Homo sapiens: one gene and its partners. The protein of the gene in region 1 purifies or fractionates together with the protein of each later gene. This does not show direct contact. Each region holds a gene or a part of one and is shown on either strand. Other genes may lie near its edges. The genes, in order: ANKMY2, ARIH1, AARS1, KLHL26, PBDC1, PLD2 and TXNDC5.

The links.
Region 2: the proteins of ANKMY2 (region 1) and ARIH1 fractionate together in Homo sapiens (co-fractionation; one large-scale study listed by BioGRID). This does not show direct contact.
Region 3: the proteins of ANKMY2 (region 1) and AARS1 fractionate together in Homo sapiens (co-fractionation; one large-scale study listed by BioGRID). This does not show direct contact.
Region 4: the proteins of ANKMY2 (region 1) and KLHL26 purify together in Homo sapiens (affinity purification with mass spectrometry; 2 studies listed by BioGRID and IntAct, with this or other methods). This does not show direct contact.
Region 5: the proteins of ANKMY2 (region 1) and PBDC1 fractionate together in Homo sapiens (co-fractionation; one large-scale study listed by BioGRID). This does not show direct contact.
Region 6: the proteins of ANKMY2 (region 1) and PLD2 purify together in Homo sapiens (affinity purification with western blotting; one study listed by BioGRID). This does not show direct contact.
Region 7: the proteins of ANKMY2 (region 1) and TXNDC5 fractionate together in Homo sapiens (co-fractionation; one large-scale study listed by BioGRID). This does not show direct contact.

The regions. Positions count from the first base shown.
Region 1 is NC_000007.14:16,639,255-16,642,754, reverse strand, and holds part of ANKMY2 (ankyrin repeat and MYND domain-containing protein 2), read left to right. Parts: intron 1-3,500. UniProt on the Homo sapiens protein: May be involved in the trafficking of signaling proteins to the cilia.
Region 2 is NC_000015.10:72,480,830-72,484,329, reverse strand, and holds part of ARIH1 (E3 ubiquitin-protein ligase ARIH1), read right to left. Parts: intron 1-3,500. UniProt on the Homo sapiens protein: E3 ubiquitin-protein ligase, which catalyzes ubiquitination of target proteins together with ubiquitin-conjugating enzyme E2 UBE2L3.
Region 3 is NC_000016.10:70,262,007-70,265,506, reverse strand, and holds part of AARS1 (alanine--tRNA ligase, cytoplasmic), read left to right. Parts: intron 1-404; coding exon 405-549; intron 550-2,982; coding exon 2,983-3,161; intron 3,162-3,500. UniProt on the Homo sapiens protein: Catalyzes the attachment of alanine to tRNA(Ala) in a two-step reaction: alanine is first activated by ATP to form Ala-AMP and then transferred to the acceptor end of tRNA(Ala). Also edits incorrectly charged tRNA(Ala) via its editing domain.
Region 4 is NC_000019.10:18,640,028-18,643,527, forward strand, and holds part of KLHL26 (kelch-like protein 26), read left to right. Parts: intron 1-3,500. UniProt on the Homo sapiens protein: May play a role in endo(sarco)plasmic reticulum (ER/SR) mitochondrial signaling. May be part of the ubiquitin-proteasome system (UPS) and affect ubiquitination and degradation of target substrates in cardiomyocytes.
Region 5 is NC_000023.11:76,176,062-76,178,814, forward strand, and holds the end of PBDC1 (protein PBDC1), read left to right. Parts: intron 1-819; coding exon 820-931; intron 932-1,554; coding exon 1,555-1,847; coding exon of another isoform or gene 1,848-1,956; 3' UTR 1,957-2,253; downstream 2,254-2,753.
Region 6 is NC_000017.11:4,810,152-4,813,651, forward strand, and holds part of PLD2 (phospholipase D2), read left to right. Parts: intron 1-650; coding exon 651-800; intron 801-3,500.
Region 7 is NC_000006.12:7,890,289-7,893,788, reverse strand, and holds part of TXNDC5 (thioredoxin domain-containing protein 5 isoform 1 precursor), read left to right. Parts: intron 1-2,052; coding exon 2,053-2,168; intron 2,169-3,500. UniProt on the Homo sapiens protein: Protein disulfide isomerase of the endoplasmic reticulum lumen involved in the formation of disulfide bonds in proteins. Can reduce insulin disulfide bonds.

The DNA of each region.
Region 1 (3,500 bases):
AATTTTTATTTTATAGTTGAAGAAAGGCCATAAGCAAAGTTTATATTTGTGCCAAAAAGAGGCATTTTTTTTAAAGTGGGTGAAGTGAGTTTTTTTTTTTTTCTTTCATACGTTTTTCAACTTTGAAAAACTCTAGATGAGACAATAAGTTCTAGTACTTTGAACTAACAACTTTTCAGCAAAGTCTAGCCTGGCATCTTGGTCAATCTGAAATAAACTCGGCAAATATTTAAGTGATTCCCATCTGCCAGCCACTGCTCTCCAGAAAGACAGACTCTAAGTGGGGCTTTTTATTTATTAGAATGCCAAGAAGTTCCAGATGAAAATGAAAATCTGTTTCCAACATACCCATTTAAATCATAGTTAATGACAGCATTCATTTAACAGTATGTAAGAGGAAATTGAAATCACTGAACTGTGTTTAACTGGCTTATATGACTTGTAGAGTTACCCATTCTTCTAAGCTTTGATACCTTTTTCATTAATCTCAGAGCAAGCACTATTATGAAATAAATTAAACCTTTTTTAAGGCTATGAGCTAGATAATTTTCACATTACTTCTCTTATTTAGTACCTGAAATTCCTGGGCTTACTGTTGCTAACAAGAAAGTATTATACTTCCTTTTTTTTTTTCATATCTGTGTAAAGGAGCTATGAAACAAGTTTGGATAATAAGGCTTTTTCTTACCAACTATTGAGATACAATAAATTGCACATATTACAGGTAGTACACACTTTTTAATCAGTTTTGATTTAAACATACATCTGTGAAACCATCAGTAAGATCAACATAATGAACATCTTCATCACCCCCTAAAAAGTCCTTATGCCTCTTTGTGATCTGTCACTAACTTCACCCCCATCTGCAGGCAACCACTAACAGATCTCTGCCTCTGTTGATTAGATTTCTCTATTCTAGAATTTTATATTAGTAGAATCATACAATAAGTATCCTTTTTTTGAGGGGGGGCTGGCTTCTTTCATTCAACATTATGATTTTGGGGTTCATATTTATTATGTGTACCAATAGTATGTAGCTTATTTTCTTCTTTTATTTCCAGTGGAAGGATATACTACTATTTGTGCATCCATTCCCATTGATGCCCAATTGTTGTTTCCAATTTGGGACTATTGAAATAAGATCCTGTTCTAAGGTCCTGTGTCGTTAATAATACTTCTGGTGTCTTTATGGTTGAGAAACATTCAAGTCTGCTTATAACCAATTATAGTACAGAGTTCAAAGAAAAAATTAAAATATATGGTTACCATTAGTTGGATGGCTGGACAGGTTATGCAACCTATATGGGCTTCATTGTCTTCATTTTCACAGCAACAGCTCTTTTAGATACTCCCAATTTTATACAGTGCTCTGTAATACTAATTTAAGATCATTTTTTTACAAAGTCTAAAAATAGATATGAGTAGGAGACCTTTTAGAAACATCGCACAAATTCACGATTTCAAAATGCATGTTATAATTAGAAGTCTCCACTATGTGTGTGTGTGTGTGTGTCTGTGTGTGAGACAGGGTCTCACCCTGTCACCCAGGCTGGAATGCAATGGTGCGCTCTCGGCTCACTGCAACCTCTGCCTCCCAAGTTCAAGCAATTCTCCTGCCTCAGCCTACTGAGTAGCTGGGATTACAGGCGTGCACCACCGCGCCCGGCTAATTTTTGTCTTTTTAGTAGAGATGGGGTTTCACTTTTAAAATATATTTATAGCTTTATATCTATGATTATATCAAAATCTATATCCATATGTTCTTGTTTTAAAATTAAGGCACTTTAAACATTTTTACATGATTTTACTTATACGTAAACACTATAACAACTAACAAAGCCAAATAGATTTCTAAATCCTTAACTTGATTATATATTCCTTAAAATATCCGTTTTCGTGGCTTCCAATAAATAATGATTGCAATCCAGCTGGACATAGTGGCTCATGCCTGTAGAGTGACCCCTCTGCACTTTGGGAGGATCCAAGAGGATCACTTGGACCCAGGAGTTTGCCACCAGCCTGGGTCTCAATATAGTGAGACCCCGTTGTTACAAAAAATGTAAAAATTAGCTGGGTGCGGTGGCGTGCACCTGTAGTCCTAGCACCTCAAGAGTCTGAGGCAGGAGGATTGCTTGAACCCAGGAATTCAAGGCTGCAGTGAGCCATGATCATGCCACTGCACTCCAGCTTGGGCGATGGAGGAAGGCCCTGTATCTATAAAAAATTAAAACAATAATAATGAATAACGATTGAAATCTATACGTGTTTGAATCTCATGGTTGTGTGATGAATTGCTGAAAACAGAATGTTTGTTTCTCCTGTTCTGTTTGTTTTGGCTGCATCTTCTTGTCTTTGGTAGAGACCCGTGTTCCCGATCTAGATATTAGAAATGTTACAATGAATTATATTGTGCTGCTCTGAATACAAAATAAAAAGAAGATCTAATAAAGGCTTATATGTGCTCCACATTAGGACACTCCTCAGATAACTGTGGGATGGATATTGTTATCCTTATTTCATAGATAAGGAAACTGAGAGTTTTACAGGTCTTTTTATTTACTTTTATTTATTTATTTACTTATTTTTTTGAGACAGAGTCTCGCTCTTGTCGCCCAAGCTGGAGTGCAGTGGCGCGATCTTGACTCACTGCAACCTCCTCCTCCTGGGTTCAAGCAATTCTCCTGTCTCAACCTCCTGAGTAGCTAGGACTACGAGCACGCACCACTACACCTGGCTAATTTTTGTATTTTTTTTTTTAGTAGAGATGGGGTTTCACCATGTTGGCCAGGCTGGTCTCAAACTCCTGACCTCAGGTGATCCATCCGCCTTGGCCTCCCAAAGTGCTGTGATTACAGGTGTGAGCCACCATGCCTGGCCAAGTTTTGCAGGTCTTGTTCCACTTTATAGTATTCCTGAAAAAGCTATAATGTAGTAGAAGAGAGAGCAGTAACACTAAGAATATCATTCTCTTTTGAGACAGGGTCTCACTTTATTGCCTAGGCTGGATTACAGTGGCATGATCATAGCTCACTGCAGCCTCAACTTCCTGGGCTCAAGCAATCCTCCCACCTCAGCCTCCTGAGTAGCTGGGACTACAGGTCCATGCCACCACACCTTGCTAATTTTTTAGAAAATTTTTTGTAGAGATGGGGTCTCACTATGTTGTCCATGCTGGGAAAATATTATGTACATAATCTTTTCTCTCCTAAAATGCTTGTTCATCCAGATAAAGTGATCAATTCCACCCTAATGAGGCAGGTTATGCTGTATTTTCTTCTTTGGTTTGAGCAGTTGGAGGAATTCTCTAAAGGGAAATAAATCACTAATTATTACTTTAATTAGTTTAGGTCTGTTGTTTCTTATCTCCAATGAAGGTAAATGTTGGCTCCTTGCACATCCCTTCTTATAGTACTCTATCTTCCACCCCCAGCAGTTTGTTAAATCAGATTTAACATATTTATTTCCCAGAATAAAGCAATTAATCTTTTACACTTACTTGT
Region 2 (3,500 bases), on another chromosome or scaffold:
AGAATTTACTTATGTAACCAAATACCACCTCTTCCCCAATAACCTAGGGAAATAAAATTTTTTGGAAAAAAGAATATGTGGGATTTTTGCATTATTTCTTGTAACTGCATGTGAATCTACAATTTTCTTTTCTTTTCTTCTTTTTTTTTTTTTTTTTTGATGGAGTTTCACTCTTGTTGCCCAGGCTGGAGTGCAATGGCATAATCTTGGCTCACTGCAACCTCTGTCTCCTGGGTTCAAGTGATTCTCCTGCCTCAGCCTCCCGAGTAGCTGGGATTACAGGCGCCCACCACCATGCCCGGCTAATTTTTGTATTTTTTTAGTAGAGACGGGGTTTCGCCATTTGGCCAGGCTGGTCTCGAACTCCTGACTTCAGGTGATCCGCCTGCCTCGGCCTCCCAAAGTGCTGGGATTACAGGCGTGAGCCACCATGCCCGGCTGTGAATCTACAATTTTCTATTTTAAAAACAGTAATGAAAAAAATCCCCAGGTGATTCCATTACGTAGCTAGAGTTAAAAAAAAAAAAAATCAGTAAACTGGAGAATCTCAAATTCCTACCAATTCTGAGACTACAAGCTATTTTAAACTTAAGCCACTGAAAGGTTATTAGGAATGTTTATCATTTACAGGTATAATGTTTTGCAAAGCCAAAAGTAATTAATTTACGGTTAATCCAAAATAAAAAATCCAAAACACTATGTTCTCCCAATAGCATACAAAAAGATTGGATAGAAAGGCATTATACAATAGCTGTAATTTACCTCTTAACAGAGAGAGACAGAGACAAACAGCCGGCCTCTAAGATAGCCCCCAAAGACCCCTGCCTCCTGGTCTTCACATCTTTGTATAATCCCCTCCGATTGAGTATGGGCTGGATTTGGTTATTCACTTACAACAAATAGAATATTGCAAAGTGATGCGACGTTACTTCTGAAATTAAGTTATAAAAACTTTGTGGCTTCCATCGTATGGGCCTTTTCTCTAAGATCCCTCACTCTGGAGGAAACAAGCTACTGTGTTGTCAGCCACTTTATGGAGAGGCCCACATGGCAAGGAACTGATATCTCTGGGCAACAACCAGCCAGTGAAAATCTGGCCTGGTCACAGCCAAATGAGTGAGCTCGGAAGGGGAAGCTTCCCCAGTCAAGCCTTGAGGACTGCTACCCAGGCCAGACACGGTGGCTCATGCCTGTAATCCCAGCACTTTAGGAGGCTAAGGCGGGCAGATCCCTTGAATTAAGGTGTTCAAGAGCAGCCTAGGCAACATGGCAAAACAAAAAAATACTGGTCTCTACCAAAAAACCCACAAAAACAAAAAAATAAGCTGGGGTGTGGTGGTGCACATCTATAGTCCCAACTACTCAGGAGGCTGAGGTAAGAGGATCACTTGGACTCAAGAGGTGAGGGTTGCAATGAGCCGAGATTATGCCATTGCACTCCAGCCTGGGCACCACAGCAAGCCTCTGTCTTTAAAAAAAAAAAAAAAAAAGAGAGAGAGAGAACTGCTACCAAGCCGTCACCTTGGTTGCAGCCTTGTAAGAGACCATAAGCCAGAGGCCCCCAGGTAAGCTGCATCCAGAATTGTGACTCACAGAAACTATGATATAACAGATCCTTGTTTTTTTAAGCCACTAAGTTTTGGGGTAACATAAGGCAAAAGATAACCAATCTACATAGTTACCACAGGTCAACCCCAAAAGAATCTAATGTGATGACTTCTGCTTACCTTTCATCACAGTATTTAATCTCCCAGGTTCTACATTATTATCCAGCATTTATAAGCTCCATTCTACTTTAGCTGATTTCACCATTACCCAAAAACTCTCCTCATTCTCACCTCATTCAGTTCCTTAGAATGACTTCCTCTTTTTTATCCACCCAAATCCTAGCCATCTTTGACAACACCTACAGAGGTCTCTTCCATGAGTATCTATTACTATCCACTTATTTAAATTACTCACTAACCTAACAGCTTTAACTCTAAGAGATTCTCAACTCCTTAAGAATAAGTCTTCTCATATTCCTTTAAACAGGACTTTATATCTATCCAGGACTTTATATCTCTTCCAGCATACTAATAAATTAGAAAACTCAACATTCTATATTAAAAAAATCTAGGACTGGAAGGGAAATCAAGAACTCCAATCTAGAATGTCAGATGTCACTAGTTTAGTTTGTCTATTTGAAAATACTGGCCGGGTGCAGTGGCTCATGCCTGTAATCCCAGCACTTTGGGAGGCCAAGTCGGGTGGATCACCTGAGGTCAGGAGTTCGAGATCAGCCTGGCCAACATGGTGAAACCCCGTCTCTACCAAAAATACAAAATTAGCCGGGCGTAGTGGTGGGCGCCTGTAATCCCAGCTACTCGGGAGGCTGAAGGAGGAGAATCGCTTGAACCCAGCAGGCGAAGGTTGCAGTGAGCCGAGATGGCGCCACTGCACCCCAGCCTGGGCAAGAGAGAAAAGACTCTGTCTCCAAAAAAGAAAAGAAAAGAAAAGAAAATACTGAGTAAAGACCACCTTAGCTGAAGGATAGCATAGCATGAAGGATAGCATCTACGATGACAAACATCTTCCAACCCTATGATTAGCCTAGTAAACGTTGCCTAGGTTCTGGAAATTTTCCCATTATTACCTTTTTTTTGAAGTAGAGTCTCCCTCTGTCACCCAGGCTAGAGTGCAGTGACACTATCTCAGCTCACTGCAACCTCCAATTCCCAGGTTCAAGCAATTCTCCTGCCTCAAGTCTCCCAAGTAGCTGGGATTACAGGCACAGGCCACCACGCCCAGCTAGTGTTTCACCATATTGGCCAGGCTGGTCTCAAACTCCTGACCTCAAGTGATCTGCCTGGCACAGTCCCCAAAGTGCTGGGATTACAGGTGTGAGCCACCGTGACTGGTCCCCTATTATTAGTTTCTTAAACAATTTATCTTCCCTCATTAACCCACCTCTGTAGTAATCTATCACTACACGTAACACATAGAGAAACACTGCTATTAAATTTCAACTACATCAGCAGTTCTCAAACTTTAGCTTGCATCACCATCACCTAGAAGGCTTGTTAAAACAGACAGCCAGACCCCATCCCCAGAGTTTGATTCATAGGACTACTGCCATAGCAATTCAACAAGTCAGTGTAATTTAAACTTACAGCTCAAGGAGATCAGCTGGGAAAATATAAAAGTCCAAAAGAAATAAATCTAAACTATATCAAACACTTTAATAACTTCAAAACACATGTGCCTGCACACATCATGCACAGGCTTGTACACCCTCTTCCTCCTCTCCCAATTAATGAACATAACCACAATATGCACACCTGAATTCAATTTCTTGGAAAAAATGAACATCTCCAATTAACTGAGGTTTTTAAAATGATGTTAAACGAATAAAACACTTAATGTAAAAAAGGACCAACCTAGTATTTCAACTCCCTCATTTTCAGTCCCAGATTAAAAACAAAACAAGGCCGGGCAAGGTGGCTCACTGTGATCCCAGA
Region 3 (3,500 bases), on another chromosome or scaffold:
AACACCTTCCAACCCAGCACCACTTGGCTGCAGACTGAGCATGAGTTTCCTTCCATTAAAGTCTTTGAAGTGCTTTTTCCCCTAGATCAGTGGTTCTCAAGTGGGGGCGAGTCTGCCTTCCAGGGAGTAATTGGCGATAATGTCTGAAGACATTTTTGATTTTCACAACTAGGGGCAGATCCTGCTGTCACGTACTTGGTAGAGGCCAGGGTGCCCCTCAGCATCCCACACTGCAAGAGAAGTTTCCACAACAGAGAATGATCTGGCCCCAAATGTCAGTAGTGCCAGGATTGAAAAACCCTGTTCTGGCAGTTTATGCTGGGCATAGTTTAGCAAGTTCCAGTCCTTTGGAGTCCCTTTTCTCCTACTTTACGGTAACTTATGCTTGTTTCTCTTGCTGACAGCTGAAATCACAGGGCAAGGGAGCTGGTGGGGAAGACCTCATTATGCTGGACATTTACGCTATCGAAGAGCTCCGGGCACGGGGTCTGGAGGTCACAGATGATTCCCCAAAGTACAATTACCATTTGGACTCCAGTGGTAGCTATGGTATGTTGCTGTGCTCCTTCCACATCTGAGCATTCTGCCCCGTATCTGGGGGGTATTTGAAAGATTGTTTCTCAAGATTAGCTCTCCAGCAGACTGCTGACAGCCTCTCCTGGAGTGCCGTACAGTCACGCTATGCACTTTTATACACATAGGCACCCTTGGCTGGAGGTTTTCTTAACTCTATTTTGAAATAATTATTGTCACAGGAAGTTGTAAAAAAAAAAAATTTGTAGGAAGGGTCTCACACCCTTTTATCCAGTTTCCCCTAATTGTAACATCATGCAGGAAACTGGGCAATTGACATTGATACAATCCACAGTGACTATCAGAATGCTATTAGGGGCCTGGCGCTGTGCCTCACACCTGTAATCCCAACACTTTGGGAGGCCGGGGCAGGTGGATCACCTAAGGTCAGGAGTTTGAGACCAGCCTGACCAACATGATGAAACCCCATCTCTACTAAAAATACGGAAATTAGCCGGGCGTGGTGGCGTGCCCCTGTAATCCCAGCTACTCGGGAGGCTGAGGCAGGAGAATCGCCTGAACCTGGGAGGCAGAGGTTGCAGTGAGCCAAGATCATGCCATTGCACTCCAGCCTGGACAACAAGAGTGAAATTCCGTCTCGGGGAAAAAGAAAAAGAATGCTATTAGGATTCTATTATCCTAATGCTGTTAGAATGCTATTATCCTAATAGCATTCTTTTTTTTTTCTGAGATGGAATCTCCCTCTGTTGCCCAGGCTGGAGTGCAATAGTGTGATCTCGGCTCACTGCAACCTCCACCTCCTGGGTTCAAGCGATTCTCCGGCCTCAGCCTCCCAAGTAGCTGGGATTACAGCCACGCACCACCACACCCGGCTGATTTTTGTGTTTTTAGTAGAGACAGGGTTTCACCATGTTTGCCAGGCAGGTCTCAAACTCCTGACCTCATGATCTGCCTGCCTTGGCCTCCCAAAGTGCTGGGATTACAGGCGTAAGCCATCTCGCCCGACCGGATAATAGTATTCTAAAGTTAAGAAACAAAGCCAGTGCAATGACTCATGCCTGTAATCCCAGCACTTCGGGATGCCAGGGTGGGCTGATCAGTTGAGCTCTGGTGTTTGAGACCAGTCTGGGCAACATGGCGAAACCCTGTCTCTACCAGAAATACAAAAATTAGCTAGGTGTGGTGGCGCATGCCTGTAGTCCCAGCTATTTGTGGGGCTGAGGCAGGAGGATCACTTGAGCCTGGGAGATTGAGAGGCTGCAGTCAGCCATATTTGTGCCACTGCACTCCAGCCTGGGCTACAGAGTGAGACCCTGTCTCAAAAAAAACATAAAAATAAATTGGCAATACATGTTTTTGCAGCTTTTTTGCCCTGGTAGAGAACAATCTTTTTTTTTTTTTTGAGATGGAGTTTCGCTCTGTCACCCAGGCTGGAGTGCAGTGGCGCATTCTCGGCTCACTGCAACTTCTGCCTCCCAGCTTGAAGTGATTCTCCTGCCTCAGCCTCCCAATTAACTGGGATTACAGGCATGTGCCACCACACCTGGCTAATTTTTGTATTGTAGTGGACACGGGGTTTCACCGTGTTGGCCAGGCTGGTCTCAAACTGCTGAGCTCAGGTTATCCACCCGTCTCAGCCTCACAAAGTGCCAGGATGACAGGTGTGAGCCACCGTGCCCGGCTGAGAACAATCTTACACCTAAATCTATTCAAGCAAGCCTACAAAATGAGTACATTCTTTGTGAGTTGACCTTGGACTAGGGAATTTATTACTACTCTTAAAGATCTACTAATCTGATGCACCAAGTTTCTGTTCAGTAGCTCAGAGTTAGGGTAACCCATTGTCCCAGTTTTAACACTGAAGCCTGCATCCCAGGAAACCCCTCAGTCCTAAAAATTGGGACAGTTGGTCACCCGACAGAGTGTTGCATTCTTTGATGGAAAGCCAGCATGCGAAGCCCTTTGTTGTTGTTGTTTTTTTTTTTTTTTTTTTTTTTTTTTTTTTGAGACCGAGTCTTGCTTTGTCACCCAGGCTGGAGTGGAGTGGCACAATCTCGGCTCACTGCAAGCTCCGCCTCCTGGGTTCACGCCATTCTTCTGCCTCAGCCTCCTGAGTAGCTGGGACTACAGGTGCCCGCCACCACACCCGGCTAATGTTTTGTATTTTTGGTAGAGACAGGGTTTCAGCGTGTTAGCCAGGATGGTCTCGATCTCTTGACCCCGTGATCCGCCTGCCTCGACCTCCCAAAGTGCTGGGATTATAGGGGGAGCCACCGCGCCCGGCCGCGAAGCCCTTTCATATTGTCTAATGAGTTTGCTTCCAAAATACAATTGGACAATTAGGAGCTAAGAAGAGTTTGCGAAAGAGAATCCAGCAAAAGTCAGCCAAGAAGGAGTGAAAAGGTCATTGACCCCACTGTCCCCTTTCTATGCATTTCCCTTGAGCAGTATTTGAGAACACAGTGGCTACGGTGATGGCTCTGCGCAGGGAGAAGATGTTCGTGGAAGAGGTGTCCACAGGCCAGGAGTGTGGAGTGGTGCTGGACAAGACCTGTTTCTATGCTGAGCAAGGAGGCCAGATCTATGACGAAGGCTACCTGGTGAAGGTGGATGACAGCAGTGAAGATGTGAGCCAACAGTTCTTCCTTGTTAGCCGAGGAGGGCCAGGCGTGGAGCCGGGGAGCTGCTTTTGCCCCACAGTGCTCCAGGCCTTGGGAGCAGACCTGACACACCTTTGGGTTGGGTTCCATGGTATTTCTGAAGCCGAGGGAGCTGTTGCTTGTACCTGTTGCTTTCCTGGCCATCGGGTACCCTCGTAGGAGTATTTTTGCAGCCAGGGTACAAGTTTCCTACAAGCTTTGCACATTAAAAAGGAGAGGCAGCTCTCTGAAGGGGAGATGTCCTTGTAGAAAACTCAGCCTCGAGCTCTGCCGCTGCTGAATGAGTTACTTTGTCTCCCTAGGCTT
Region 4 (3,500 bases), on another chromosome or scaffold:
ACTGTGTCCGTCCATACAATCTCGTATGGACGGACACAGTTTGTTTATCCATTAACTGGTTGATGGACTGTTGGGTTGTTTCCATTTTGACAACTGCAAATAAAGTTGCTGTGAACATCTGGATATGTGTCTCTGTGTGGACGTATATTTTCATCCTCTTGGGTAAATACTTAAGAGTAGAATGACTAGTTCATATGGTAGATGTGTTTAAATTTCTTTTTTTTTGAGACAGGGTCTCACTCTGTTGCCCAGGCTGAAGTGCAGTGGTGCAATCACGGCTTACTGTAGCCTCTACCTCCTTGGGCTCAGGTGATCCTCCCACCTCAGCCTTCCAAGTAGCTGGTAGGTACTACAAGGGCGTATGCCACCACACCCAGCTATTTTTTCTGTGCTTTTGTTGAGACAAAGTCTTGCCATGTTGCCCAGGCTGGTCTTGAATTCCAGGGCTCAAGCAATCTTCCCACCTCTGCCTCCCAAAGTGCTGGGATTACAGGTGTGAGCCACTACGCCTGGCTATGTTTTAATTTTTTTTTTTTTTTTTTTTTTTTTGAGATGGAGTCTCTCTCTGTTGCCCAGCAGTTGTTCACTGCAACCTCTGTCTCCTGGGTTCAAGTGATTCTCCTGCTTCAGCCTCCTGAGTAGCTGGGATTGTAAGGATGCGCCACCACACTCAGCTAATTTTTGTATTTTTAGTAGAGACGGGGTTTTGCCATGTTGGCCAGACTGGTCTTGAACTCCTGACCTCAGGGGATCCGCCTGCTTCGGCCTCCCAAAGTGCTGGGATTACAGGTGTGAGCCACTGAGACTGGCCATGTTTTAATTTTTAGGAAACTGCCAAGCTTGTTCCCAAAGTGGCTGTACCATTTTGCATCCCCACCAGCAATGTTCAAGAGTTCCAGCTCCTCCTCATCCTCACTAACACCTGGTATGGCCAGTCCTTAGTTTTAGCCATTCTTATAGGTGTGTGCTGGTGTCTTCATTTGGTGTTTTTATTTATTTATTTATTTGTGAGATGAGGTCTCACTCTGTCGCCCAGGCTGGAGTGCGATGGTGCGATCCTAGCTCACTGCACCCTGGAACTCCTGGGTTCAAGCAATCTTCGGGCCTCAGCCTCTGGAATAAGTGGGATTACAGGTGTGCACACCACTGTTCCCAGTCTTATTTTGGTTTTAATTTGCATTTCTCTAATAACTAATGATGTTGGACAGTTTTTCATGAGCTTCTTAGCTATTCATCTCTTTGGTAACGTGTCTTTTCAAATGTTTGGGCCATTTTTAAGTTGGGTTGCCTTTTTTTTTTTTTTTTTTTTAAGACTGAGTCTCGCTTTGTTGCCCAGGCTGGAGTGCAGTGGTGCGATCCTAGCTCATTGTAACCTCCACCTCTTGGGTTCAAGCGATTTTCATGTCTCAGCCTCCCGAGTAGCTGGGATTACAGGTGCATGCTACCACACCCGGCTAATTTTTGTATTTTTAGTGGAGACGGGGTTTCACCATGTTGGCTAGACTGGTCTCAAACTCCTGACCTCAGGTGATCTGCCTGCCTCAGGCTCCCAAAGTGCTGGGATTAGAGGCATGAGCCACCACACCCGGCTCTTTTTCTTTTTTCTTTTTTTTTTTTTTGAGATGGAGGCTTGCTCTGTTGCCCAGGCTAGAGTGCAGTGGCGTGATCTTGGCTCACTGCAACCTCTGCCTCCCAGGTTCAAGCAATTCTCCTGCCCCAGCCTCCCGAGTAGCTGGGATTACAGGCGTGTGCCACCACACCCGGCTAATTTTTGTATTTTTAGTAGAGACGGGGTTTCTCCATGTTGGTCAGGCTGGTCTCGATCTCTTGACCTTGTGATCTGCCCGCCTCAGCCTCCCAAAGTGCTGGGATTACGGCGTGAGCCACCATGCCCGGCCCTCTTTCTTAAAAGACATCTTTGTCATTCTCCCCTATCCTCCATCCTAGTGAAAAATCACTGTTTGGAGCAACTGATAGGGGCATCTCATGCCTCAGGTGCTAGTGTGGGGAGAACCCCTAATGTGGCAAGATGGAGCATGCAGAAAATGGATCATATTTTGAGGGAGATTGGTACAAGACATTCTCCCAAAAGTCATTTTGAGACATTGAGTCTTTGTAGCATTGTTCGTCTGTTCCTTCATTTATTGCAAATGGGACAGCCAGGCCTGGAGCACGACCCACCTCCTCGCCTCAACCTGCCCACGTCTCCTTCCTCTTCATCCTTCCACTCTCCAAGGTTCTGGCCCCTCAGAGCCACCTGCCTGACCATGCAAGCTCAAGTAGTCCCCAGGACACTTTTGCTAGTCACCTAGTGTGTGTGTGTGTGTGTGTGTGTGTGTGTGTGTGTGTGTGTGTTTGAGATGGAGTTTCGCTTTTGTTGCCCAGGCTGGAGTGCAGTGGCATGGTCACTGCAACCTCCACCTCCCGGGCTCAAGCAACTGATTCTCTTACCTCAGCCTCCCGAGTAGCTGGGATTACGGGCGCCTGCCACCAAGCCTGGCTAATTTTGTATTTTTAGTAGAGGTGGGGTTTCTCCATGTTGGCCAGGCTGGTCTGGAACTCCTGACCTCAGGTGATCTGCCTGCCTGGGCCTCCCAAAGTGCTGGGATTACAGGCGTGAGCCACTGCGCCCGGCTTGTGGTTTTTTGTTTGTTTGTTTGGTTTGGTTTGAGGAAGAGTCTCACTCTGTCGCCCATGCTGGCATGCAGTGTCGTAGCTACCTGCAGCCTTCTTGACCTCCTGGGCTCAAGCTATCCTTCTGCTTCAGCCTCCCGAGTAGCTGGGACTACAGGCATCTACTAACACACCTAATTTTTTTTTTTTTGAGACATTGTCTCATTCTGTCGCCCAGGCTAGAGTGCAGTGGCACAATCTGGACTCACTGCAACCTCCACCTCCTGGGTTTAAGCGATTCTCCTGCCTCAGCCTCCTGAGTAGCTGGGATTACCAGTGCACGCCACCACGCCCAAATAATTTTTGTATTTTTAATAGAGACGGGGTTTCACCATGTTGGCCAGGGTGGTCTTGATCTCCTGACCTCGTGATCCACCTGCCTTGGCCTCCCAAAGTGTTGGGATTACAGGCGTGAGCCACTGTGCCTAGCCCACACCTGACTAATTTTTAAAAATTGTTTTGGGCCGGGCGCGGTGGCTCATGCCTGTAATCCTAGGACTTTGGGAGGCCGAGGTGGGCAGATCACTTGAGGTCAGGAGTTTGAGACCAGCCTAGCCAACATGGTGAAACCGCTTCTCTACTAAAAATACAAAAATTAGCCAGGATTGGTGGCACGTGCCTGTAATCCCAGCTACTCGGGAGGCTGAGGCAAGAGAATCACTTGAACCCGGGAGGCAGAGGTTGCAGTGAGCTGAGATCGCTCCACTGCGCTCCCACCTGGGCGAGAGAACCAGACTGTCTTAAAAAATATATATATTATTTTATAGAGATGGGGTCTTATTATTATTTTTTTTTGAGATAGAGTTTTGCTCTTGTTGTCCAGGCTA
Region 5 (2,753 bases), on another chromosome or scaffold:
TAGGAAAAAAATGTTTTCCTTGAGAGTAAACCCTTGGCTAATGAAGAATCTAAAGTTTTTGTTTGTTTGTTTGTTTTGTTTTGTTTTTTGTTTTTTGGTTTTTTTTTTTTGATACAGGGTCTCACTCTGTTGCCCAGGCTGGAGTGCGGTGGTGCCATCTCAGCTCACTGCAACCTCCGCCTCTCAAGCTCAAACAGTCCTCCTGCTTCAGCCTCCCTAGTAGGTGGGACTGCAGGTGCATGCTACCATGCCCAGCTAATATTTTGTATTTTTGGTAGAGACAGGGTTTCACCATGTTGACCAGGCTGGTCTTAAACTCCTGAGCTCAAGCGATCCGCCCGCCTCGGTCTTTCAAAGTGCTGGGATTGCAGGCGTGAGCCACCACACCCAGCCAAGAAACTACACTTTTAACTCCTAGCAGGCAGTTAGTGATCTTTGTCTTTGGAAAACTGTCACTACTGAATGGACTTCTTTATTAAAATCATTTGTGTTTTAGTGGGGATAGATGACCATTTTGGGCTGAACTGACCAATAACTTCAAAACAAAACAATTGACTTAAGAAATAATATTTTAATTCTGCAGTAAAGGATTTATATATTTTTCAGAGTAAAATATTGTTCATCTTGGGAAATGGCAGTCTAAAGACACAATAGGTAGCACAGAAACGCATTGCTAGTTTCACTGTGAAACCAACAATCACCTCAATCCCAGTCTCACTATGATTATTTTCCTTACTGGGAAAATGGAAGTCCCTCTCCTGGCCTTAGTACGTCAGCCTCTTGCATTTGTCAGCTAAAGCATCGTTTTTGCCTTTATAGAAGTGGAGGCCATTCTGCTTGAAGTTTAATGGGATTGTTGAAGACTTCAACTATGGTACTTTGCTGCGACTAGATTGTTCTCAGGGCTACACTGAGGAAAACACCATCTTTGGTGAGTTTCTTCCCTCTGGAATTGTTTCTGTGTAAGGAGACTGAACAGTCTGGCTTTACTGATGAATCAGTGATGTGTATAGTTAGGTCACCTTATCTTGTTTCATCTTTAAAGATCTTGTTGCTATTTTTATGTAACTTGAAGATAGTTAAGTATTTTCAATCTCATTAATATGAGATTGGAATTAAAGATCTCTGAAGTTTATGACTATACTGGAATGGTTTGCATGTTATTTCAATTTTGTCAGTAGATTTCCAGCATATTTAGGGAACAGGCCAGGCACAGTGTCTCATGCCTTGTAATACCAGCACTTTGGGAGGCTGACATGGGAGGATCACTTGAGCTGAGGATTTTGAGACCAGCCTGGGCAACATAGGGAGACCCCATCTCTACAAAAATGTTTAAAAAATTAGCCAGGTATAGTGGTGAGTGTTTGTAGTTCCAGCTATTCAGGAGATTGAGGCAGGAGGATTGCTTGAACCAGGGAAATTGAGGCTGCAGTAAGCTGTGATTGTGCCACTGCAGTCCAGCCCTGGTCATCAGAGTGAGACCCTGTCTCAAAAAAAAGAGATTTAGGGAATAAGCTGAGAGTAGGATGATAATCAATTCTGTTCACTTTTCAGCCCCCAGGATACAATTCTTTGCCATTGAAATTGCTCGGAACCGGGAAGGCTATAACAAAGCTGTTTATATCAGTGTTCAGGACAAAGAAGGAGAGAAAGGAGTCAACAATGGAGGAGAAAAAAGAGCTGACAGTGGAGAAGAAGAGAACACCAAGAATGGAGGAGAGAAAGGAGCTGATAGTGGAGAAGAAAAAGAGGAAGGAATCAACAGAGAAGACAAAACTGACAAAGGAGGAGAAAAAGGGAAAGAAGCTGACAAAGAAATCAACAAAAGTGGTGAAAAAGCTATGTAAGGTATACAGGGAACAGCACTCTAGAAGCTATGACTCAATTGAGACTACAAGTACCACGGTGCTACTTGCACAGACCCCTTTGGTTAAATGTAAATTCTTGTACAATTGAAGGATACGCAGAAGGACATCTTTCTAGTCTAACAGTCAGGAGCTGCTCTGGTCATTCCCTTGTATGAACTGGTCTAAAGACTGTTAGTGGGGTGTTAGTTGATTTTTCCTGGTATACTGTTTCTTGGCTGACACTACTGGTCAAGTAAGAAATTTGTAAATAAATTTCTTTTGGTTCTTATTATCTATATCTGTGACTGACTTTAAAAAGGTATTTGACACTTGAAATTTTTTTCAAATATGTAATCTCATCACCATGTCTTATATAAGATAATTTACTCCTGTTTCTTACTGCTTCTCACTGTTTCCTGTAGTGAAGTTCTCTAAACTTGTTAAGTTATACCTGGTGTTGGGATTAGAAGTCCTTACATAAGAATTGACTCTTAATCTCTGAGTGACTATAACTCCCTGATTTCTTTGCTATATATGACAAAATATTTGATAAATAGCAGCAACCTGAACCTGTCAAACTAGTGAATGCAGCCCAGTTCATATTAGAAGAGCAAGAGACTGGACATGCTTCAGTATTTGCTTTTCTTTTGGTAGCCAGAATGTTACCTGAAAGCTAGCAAAAAAAAAAAAAAAAAAAAGGGAAAACCAGACAGAGTAGCTACCCCCTTTTTTTTTTTTTTGGAGATGGAGTCTTACTCTGACTCCCAGGCTGGAGTGTAGTGGCACAATCTTGGCTCACTGCAACCTTGGCCTCCTGGGTTCAAGTGATTCTCCTGCCTCAGCCTCCCAAGTAGCTGGGACTACAGGTGCGTGCCACCATGCCCAGCTAATTTTTTGTATTTTTAG
Region 6 (3,500 bases), on another chromosome or scaffold:
ATAGTTTTGAACCAGGAACTGGTCTAGCCAGATGCTTGGGACTGCTCTTAGACTGGGCCCAGAGAAAGGGGATTAGTAGAAGCCTGGGAAGGGAACTGCTGACATAAACGAAATTCCATTTGTTCATTTGTTCATTCAACAAACCCGAGTGCCTGGTACAATACTGGTTGCTGATGCAATACTAGGATCCAACTATGAGTAAGGTGGATATGGCCGGGCGCGGTGGCTCACACCTACAATCCCAGCACTTTGGGAGGCCGAGGCGGGTGGATCACCTGAGGTCAGGAGTTCGAGACCAGCCCAGCCAACATGCTAAAACCTTGTCTCTACTAAAAATACAAAAATTAGCCGGGCGTGGTGGTGCGTGCCTGTAATCCCAGCTATTTGGGAGGCTGAGGCAGGAGAATCGCTTGAAGCTGGGGTGCAGAGGTTGCAGTGAGCAGAGATCGCACCACTGCACTCCAGCCTGGGGGACAAGAGCTAAACTCTGTCTCAAAAATAAATAAATAAATAAGGCAGATACATACACGCCCTATCCCTGTGCAGTTGTGATTAGGGACTAAGGGAGGAAGTGGGAAAGGGGAGGTCTCTAGGCAAGATCACAGGTATGGAGGGCGAGGATTTATGGACATCTCATCGTTCCCATCCAGGTCCTTGATTCTCAAGTGCAGCAGCTACCGGCAGGCACGGTGGTGGGCCCAAGAGATCACTGAGCTGGCACAGGGCCCAGGCAGAGACTTCCTACAGCTGCACCGGCATGACAGCTACGCCCCACCCCGGCCTGGGACCTTGGCCCGGTGGTGAGACACTGACATCCCTTCTGAGCTTGTCTGTGGCTTTCTTGACCCCCTGTGTAATCTCTGAGTCCTTCATCCTCTCTTTTCTCATCTGAACCCTCCTGACCTCAATGACCCGCCCCGTGACTTCTTTAATCTTCCTGACCTTTGACATCTTTAACCACATTGATCTCTCTGATTTCGCGCCGACCTTTCTGACCCCCAAACTTGGTCATCTCTTCTGACCCTTGACCTCTCTAACCTCCTATAACCTTTTAAACCCCTCTCTACAATACTGACCCTCTCTGTTCTCCATGATCTTCTCAAATCTCTCTGATTTAGTCCTTCATTTAATAAACATTTTCTTTTCTTTTTTTTTTTTTTTTTTTTTGAGAGAGAGTTTTGTTCTGTTGATCTCGGCTCACTGCAACCTCCGCCTCCCAGGTTCAAGCGATTCTTCTGCCTCAGCCTCCCGAGTAGCCGGGATTACAGGCGCCCACCACCACACCTGGCTAATTTTTGTATTTTTAGTAGAGACGGGGGTTTCACCATGTTGGCCAGGCTCTTCTCGAACTCCTGACCTCGGGTGATCCGCCCGCCTCGGCCTCCCGAAGTGCTGGGATTACAGGCGTGAGCCACCGTGCCCAGCCTTAATAAACATTTTTCTAAGCACCTAGCAGTGCTGGCAGTAACACACAGTCCTCTCTGGGTTAGGGAAGTAGGTGATCAAATCGTGAAACAATGTGAACTTGCCGTACTGGTGATAGGTAGAAGGTGACACGCACAGACAGGAAGTACCTGGCCCAGCAGGGATATCAGGACAGGTTTCCAGGAGGTGGTGACCCTCAGGTAGTTTTGCTTTAAATCAGAGACTGACACAATATTAATTTTGTTGGTTTTTGTTGGAGACAGTGTCTTGCTCTGTCACCAGGCGTGTAGTGCAGTAGTGTGATCATGGCTCACGGCAACTTCAACCTCCCAGGCTCAAATCATCCTCCTGCCTCAGCCTCCCAAGTAGCTGAGACTACAGACACATGCCACCACACCCGGCTAATTAAAAACATTTTTTTTTACAAAAAATTTTAAAAATTAGACGGGTGTGGTCTCGAACTCCTGGGCTCAAGGGATCATCCTGCCTCGGCCTCCCCAAAGTGCTGGATTGCAGGCATGAGCGACAGTGCCTGGCCTATATACTTTTTTTTTTTTAAGGCAGAGTTTCGCTCTTGTTGCCCAGGCTAGCGTGCAGTGGCACAATCTCAGCTCACTGCAACCTCAGCCTCCCAGGTTCAAGGGATTCTCCTGCCTCAGCCTCCCAAGTAGCTGGGATCACAGGTGCATGCCACCACACCCAGCTAATTTTTGTTTTGGTTTTTTTTTTTTTTTTTTGAGATGGAGTCTGTCTCTGTCACCAGGCTGGAGTGCAGTGGCAGGATCCCACCTCACTGCAACCTCTGACTCCCCGGTTCAAGTGATTCTTCTGCCTCAGCCTCCTGAGTAGCTAGGATTACAGGCATATGCCACCATGTCCAGCTAATTTTTGTATTTTTAGTAGAGCCAGGGTTTCACCATGTTGGCCAGGATGGTCTCGATCTCCTGACTTCGTGATCTGCCCACCTCGGCCTCCCAAAGTGCTGGGATTACAGGCTTGAGCCACTGCACCTGGCTATAAACTTCTAAAACAGCCAAAACCAATCCACAGTGATGGAAATCAGATCAGCAGTTGCCTGTGGCAGGGTATGGGGAAATGATTGCCTATAGTGGGGCACACGAGGGAACATTCCAGGACGATAAAAATGTCCTATATTTTGATAGGACTGGTGATTGCGTGGGAACATACACTTGCTGATCCTCATGGAACTATACAAGATAAAGAAAATGCAGAACAGTCCAGGCACAGAAGACAGAAATAGCTCAGGGTGTTTGGGAACCACCAGGACATATTGTTGTTACTGAGTGAGGAGGAGCAGTCAGAGGAGAAGCTGGGAGTCAGTGGCACCTGATCTCACAGGGTCCCATGTGCTAATATCACAGGCACACAGGGCAGTCATGGAAGGAAGTTTTGTTTGTTCGTTTGTTTTGTTTTGGTTTGGTTTGGTTTTTGAGATGGAGTCTGGCTCTGTCGCCCAAGCTGGAGTGCAGTGGCGCGATACCAGCTCACTGCAGTCTCTGCCCCCTGGGTTCAAGCGATTCTCCTGCCTCGGCCTCCTGAGTAGCTGGGATTACAGGCGTGCACCACTATGCTCAGCTGATTTTTGTATTTTTAGTAGAGATAGGATTTCACCATGTTGGCCAGGCTGGTCACGAACTCCTGACCTTAAGTGATCCACCCGCTTCGGCTTCCCAAAGGGCTGGGATTACAGGCATGAGCCACCTTGCCCAGCCTTCCTGCATATTTTCACATGTGCATGCACGTGTTACTTTTGTTTCAACATAAATGAGATCATGCAACCTCTTCTGTGACTTATTTTTTCACTTAATACCTGTGTGAGAGATTAGACACTTATATTATTTCCCATTTTTCACTCTTACAAACAATGTGATGAACACAACATTTGCCTAGGCATTGTATTAGATGTATTCCTAGACATGTAATTACCATGTATATTTAATGATATTAAAGGGTATATGCATTTAATATTTTGATACTGCTGACCAGTCGCTTTGGCTCATGCCTGTAATCCCAGCACTTTGGGAGGCCGAGGCGGGTAGATCATTGGGGTCAGG
Region 7 (3,500 bases), on another chromosome or scaffold:
TGCCTGCTGGGAGTCAGAGCCCCTCCCCCACCACACTTACTGTCCACAGTAACTTATCGTGAGGCCTTCAGCCTTTTCCCACTTTTGCTAAAAGTTATTTCATCCATACCAGCGCCCTGACGGCAGAACTCTAGCATGCTTTCCGCTACGGGAATGCATTTTCAGCTGGGATTGTCTTGGGCTCTGAGCAGGGTGTGTTTCCCAAATCACCTGTTACGGACCGACTCCGGCAGGACAGACCGACTCCGGCAGGCCTAGCCAGCGCCTCCCTAAGTGGGTCACTGCCACACAGCTGTGTCGTGTAGGTACCATGGTGGCTTCCTGCCCTTGCTGGCTTCCCATCAGTACTCTGATTAGGTTCCCAGAGAGCCTGTCTCCACCTTACAGTGCAGGATCTACTGTGCACCTGCACATGGTTTCAGCTTTGCACATTTTTTAATGGAAGTTGTTAACTTTTAAAGGAAGTTTTTCACCATTTTCTTCAAGTGCATTGTTGCTGTGCTGATGAGACAGTAGCTGTGAGCCTTAGTGTGGCAGAGTCCTGCTCAGACGCCAGGCCACATGCCACTGGTTAGTTCTCTCCCCGGCCACAGCCTGCTTTCAGTTTGGTATCAGCCCAATGTCAGGGTAGAACAGCTAAACACCTTCTGTGTCCAAATAATGATGCTGTGAGGGTTTGTTTGTTTTTTTCCCCGTAGCCAAGGGGGTGATGTTTCATTTTTTAAACTTTTTTTTATGATAAAATATAATACAGATCGAGAAAACAAATGTAGGGCTTAATGAATTTTTATAGCGTGGTCACACTGTAACTACTGTCCAGTTCAAGAAATAAAACTGCCAGCTTCCCGTGTCCCATGCAGGGCACAGCCCGCCCTCCCTTCTCCAAGAAGGCACTTGCCTGACATTTGTGGAAACCACTTGTATTAGTCCGTTTTCACTGCTGATGAATACACACCCGAGACTGGGCAATTTACAAAGGAAAGAGGTTTAATGGAGAACTCACAGTTCCACGTGGCTGGCGAAGCCTCACAATCATGGTGGAAGGCAAGGAGGAGCAAGTCACATCTTATATGGATATCAGCAGGCAAAAAGAGCTTGTGTAGGGAAACTCCCGTTTTTAAAACCATCAGATCTCATGAGACTTATTCACTATCACGAGACCAGCATGGGAAAGACCTGTCCCCGTGACTCAGTTACCTCCTACCTGGTCCCTCCCACGACATGTGGGAATTCAAGATGAGATTTGGGTGGGGACACAGCCAAACCATATCAACTCCTTTATGTGCACTGAAGTGCACATTCCTGAGCACTATAGTTCTATATGTGTATGTGTTTATATATCTTTTAAGGCTCTTTTAACCTGCATGTTCTCCAGACATCTCTTTATCTTTCTTGCTGAAGACATAGGTGGTTTGACCTGTAGAGCTCCCCGTGGTCCAGACTTTGCTAATTGTGTCCCCGTAGTGTGGTCTACATGTTTCCCTGATTTCTCTGTTTCCTGGAAATTGGTAGTTGGGTCTGGGGACAAAATCAGTTTCAGTGTGATGTTTTTTGGGGGCACAAGAAGACCTCATAGCTGGTGGGGGCACAGAACGTCCAGTTGTCTCTCTTTGGGATGTGGTCGACCATGACAGGCAGAGCCTGGGTCCGTCCATTCCTTAGGGCTGCCAAGTGCCGAGGCTCATTCAAGCGTCCCTTCATTTTTTAACCAAGAGAAACTCACCCTCATTTATCACCTGGTTATTCAGCGGTACAGTGCATATAGGAGAGGTGGGAGAAATGCCTGATTCTTTCCTTTTATTACAGTTTTCCAAATAATGAGTTGATTGCTGATTGTCCATCAAAGATGACAAATTTGGTTTTGAGTATTGTTATGAAGTCATGAACAGAAACACATTTGATGGAGTCCCTTTGTACCAATTAAAGTGCTCATGCCGAACTAAGATTTGCTAAGCAGGACAAAGATCTGATTCTTCAATTAACTCTCTAGTGAGGTCTGACATAAATTACAGTTCCTCTTTCCCCCGTCTCTGCCTTGGCTCTCCACTCCAGGCGACCACTTTATCAAGTTCTTCGCTCCGTGGTGTGGTCACTGCAAAGCCCTGGCTCCAACCTGGGAGCAGCTGGCTCTGGGCCTTGAACATTCCGAAACTGTCAAGATTGGCAAGGTGAGTGAAAGCCCTTATTAAACTGGAAATGGACTGCTTTGGGCTGGATTAATTAGCAGAGTGGCCCATTATTCATTCCGTGTGCAAAGTCGCAAACTTGATTTATTAATTCCATTTAGTGTGCCACTTGATAATTCATTTCACCTTCACAGATGGCAGTCTGATTTTGAGTTTTGCTGGCTTTTCCACAGCCTAGAGATAAATTATGGCCTCGGCTGCTTTGTTTATTTTGAAGAGATGGCCAAATCTGAATTGGCAGCCCCAGAGCCCGTTCTGCAAAGAGATGGGGTAGAGCCTTGTAGAATGTTCACTGGACGAACTTGGAGACCGTCCACGTTCGACCTCACCCAAGAGCTCTCTCTAAAAGGACCCTGGCTCTGTGCTCCCCCAAGCACGCAGAAGACCCTCCCTCAGTTTGCACTGTGCCTGGGATTCTTTCCAGCATTTCCTACTTTATACAGAGAAGCCAAGAGTGGTGTCTGACAACTTCTGTGTAACTGGATTTTCTGGAAATATCCAGTGTAGCTCCAGGGACATCACTTTTATTCTTCTACACTTTCCAGCACCCACCAGACACCATGCATAGATTTCCTTTCTTAAAAATCTCATTTTTCTACCTTGCCATGGGGCTGATTTGTATCCAAAAGTAATGCTGCGTGTCTAGGACTGAATGATGGTTAACAGGATGATCTACTTGGGATGGTGAGATGGTCAAAAGCATAAACTTGGGGGTTGGGTAGACCTGGCTGGCTGACCTTGGGAAAAACCTCTCCACGCCTCGGTCTCCCCCTTTGCAAAACTGAGCTAAGATCTACTGTGTGGTGTCTGGGCAGATGAAAGTACACTGCTTAGTGTGATGCTTAGCATGGGGCAGATGCTTGGTAAATTGTAATCACTTTTGTTGTCAGTTAAATGGATATTTCACTGTTGCCTCTTAAACGCTTACGATAATATATACTAATTATACATGTTATTATCAGTTTATATTTATTGAACATTTCGGGGAAGTAATTATAAAATAATCTTGTCTACTGTCTTACCCCATTCCTTGTATCCTTACTTAATTATTGTATGAAATTTTATGGGAGATTCTTTTAGGTTTATATCCATAGAGGATCCTAGCAGACCTAGGCGTGAGCAGACACAAGCCCAGGTGACCACGCTGAAGCCCTTCATCCCTGGCACATGTGGCTGGGTTACACTGGACCCTTAAAAATGCTTGTCCTCTCCCGACCTTGGGCTGAGGCCTCTTGTACTTCAGTTCCGCACCTTAGCTGCTCTCTGACGGGTCTTAGGTGTTGAAATAGTATTTTTACCCCCGTTTGCTGACAT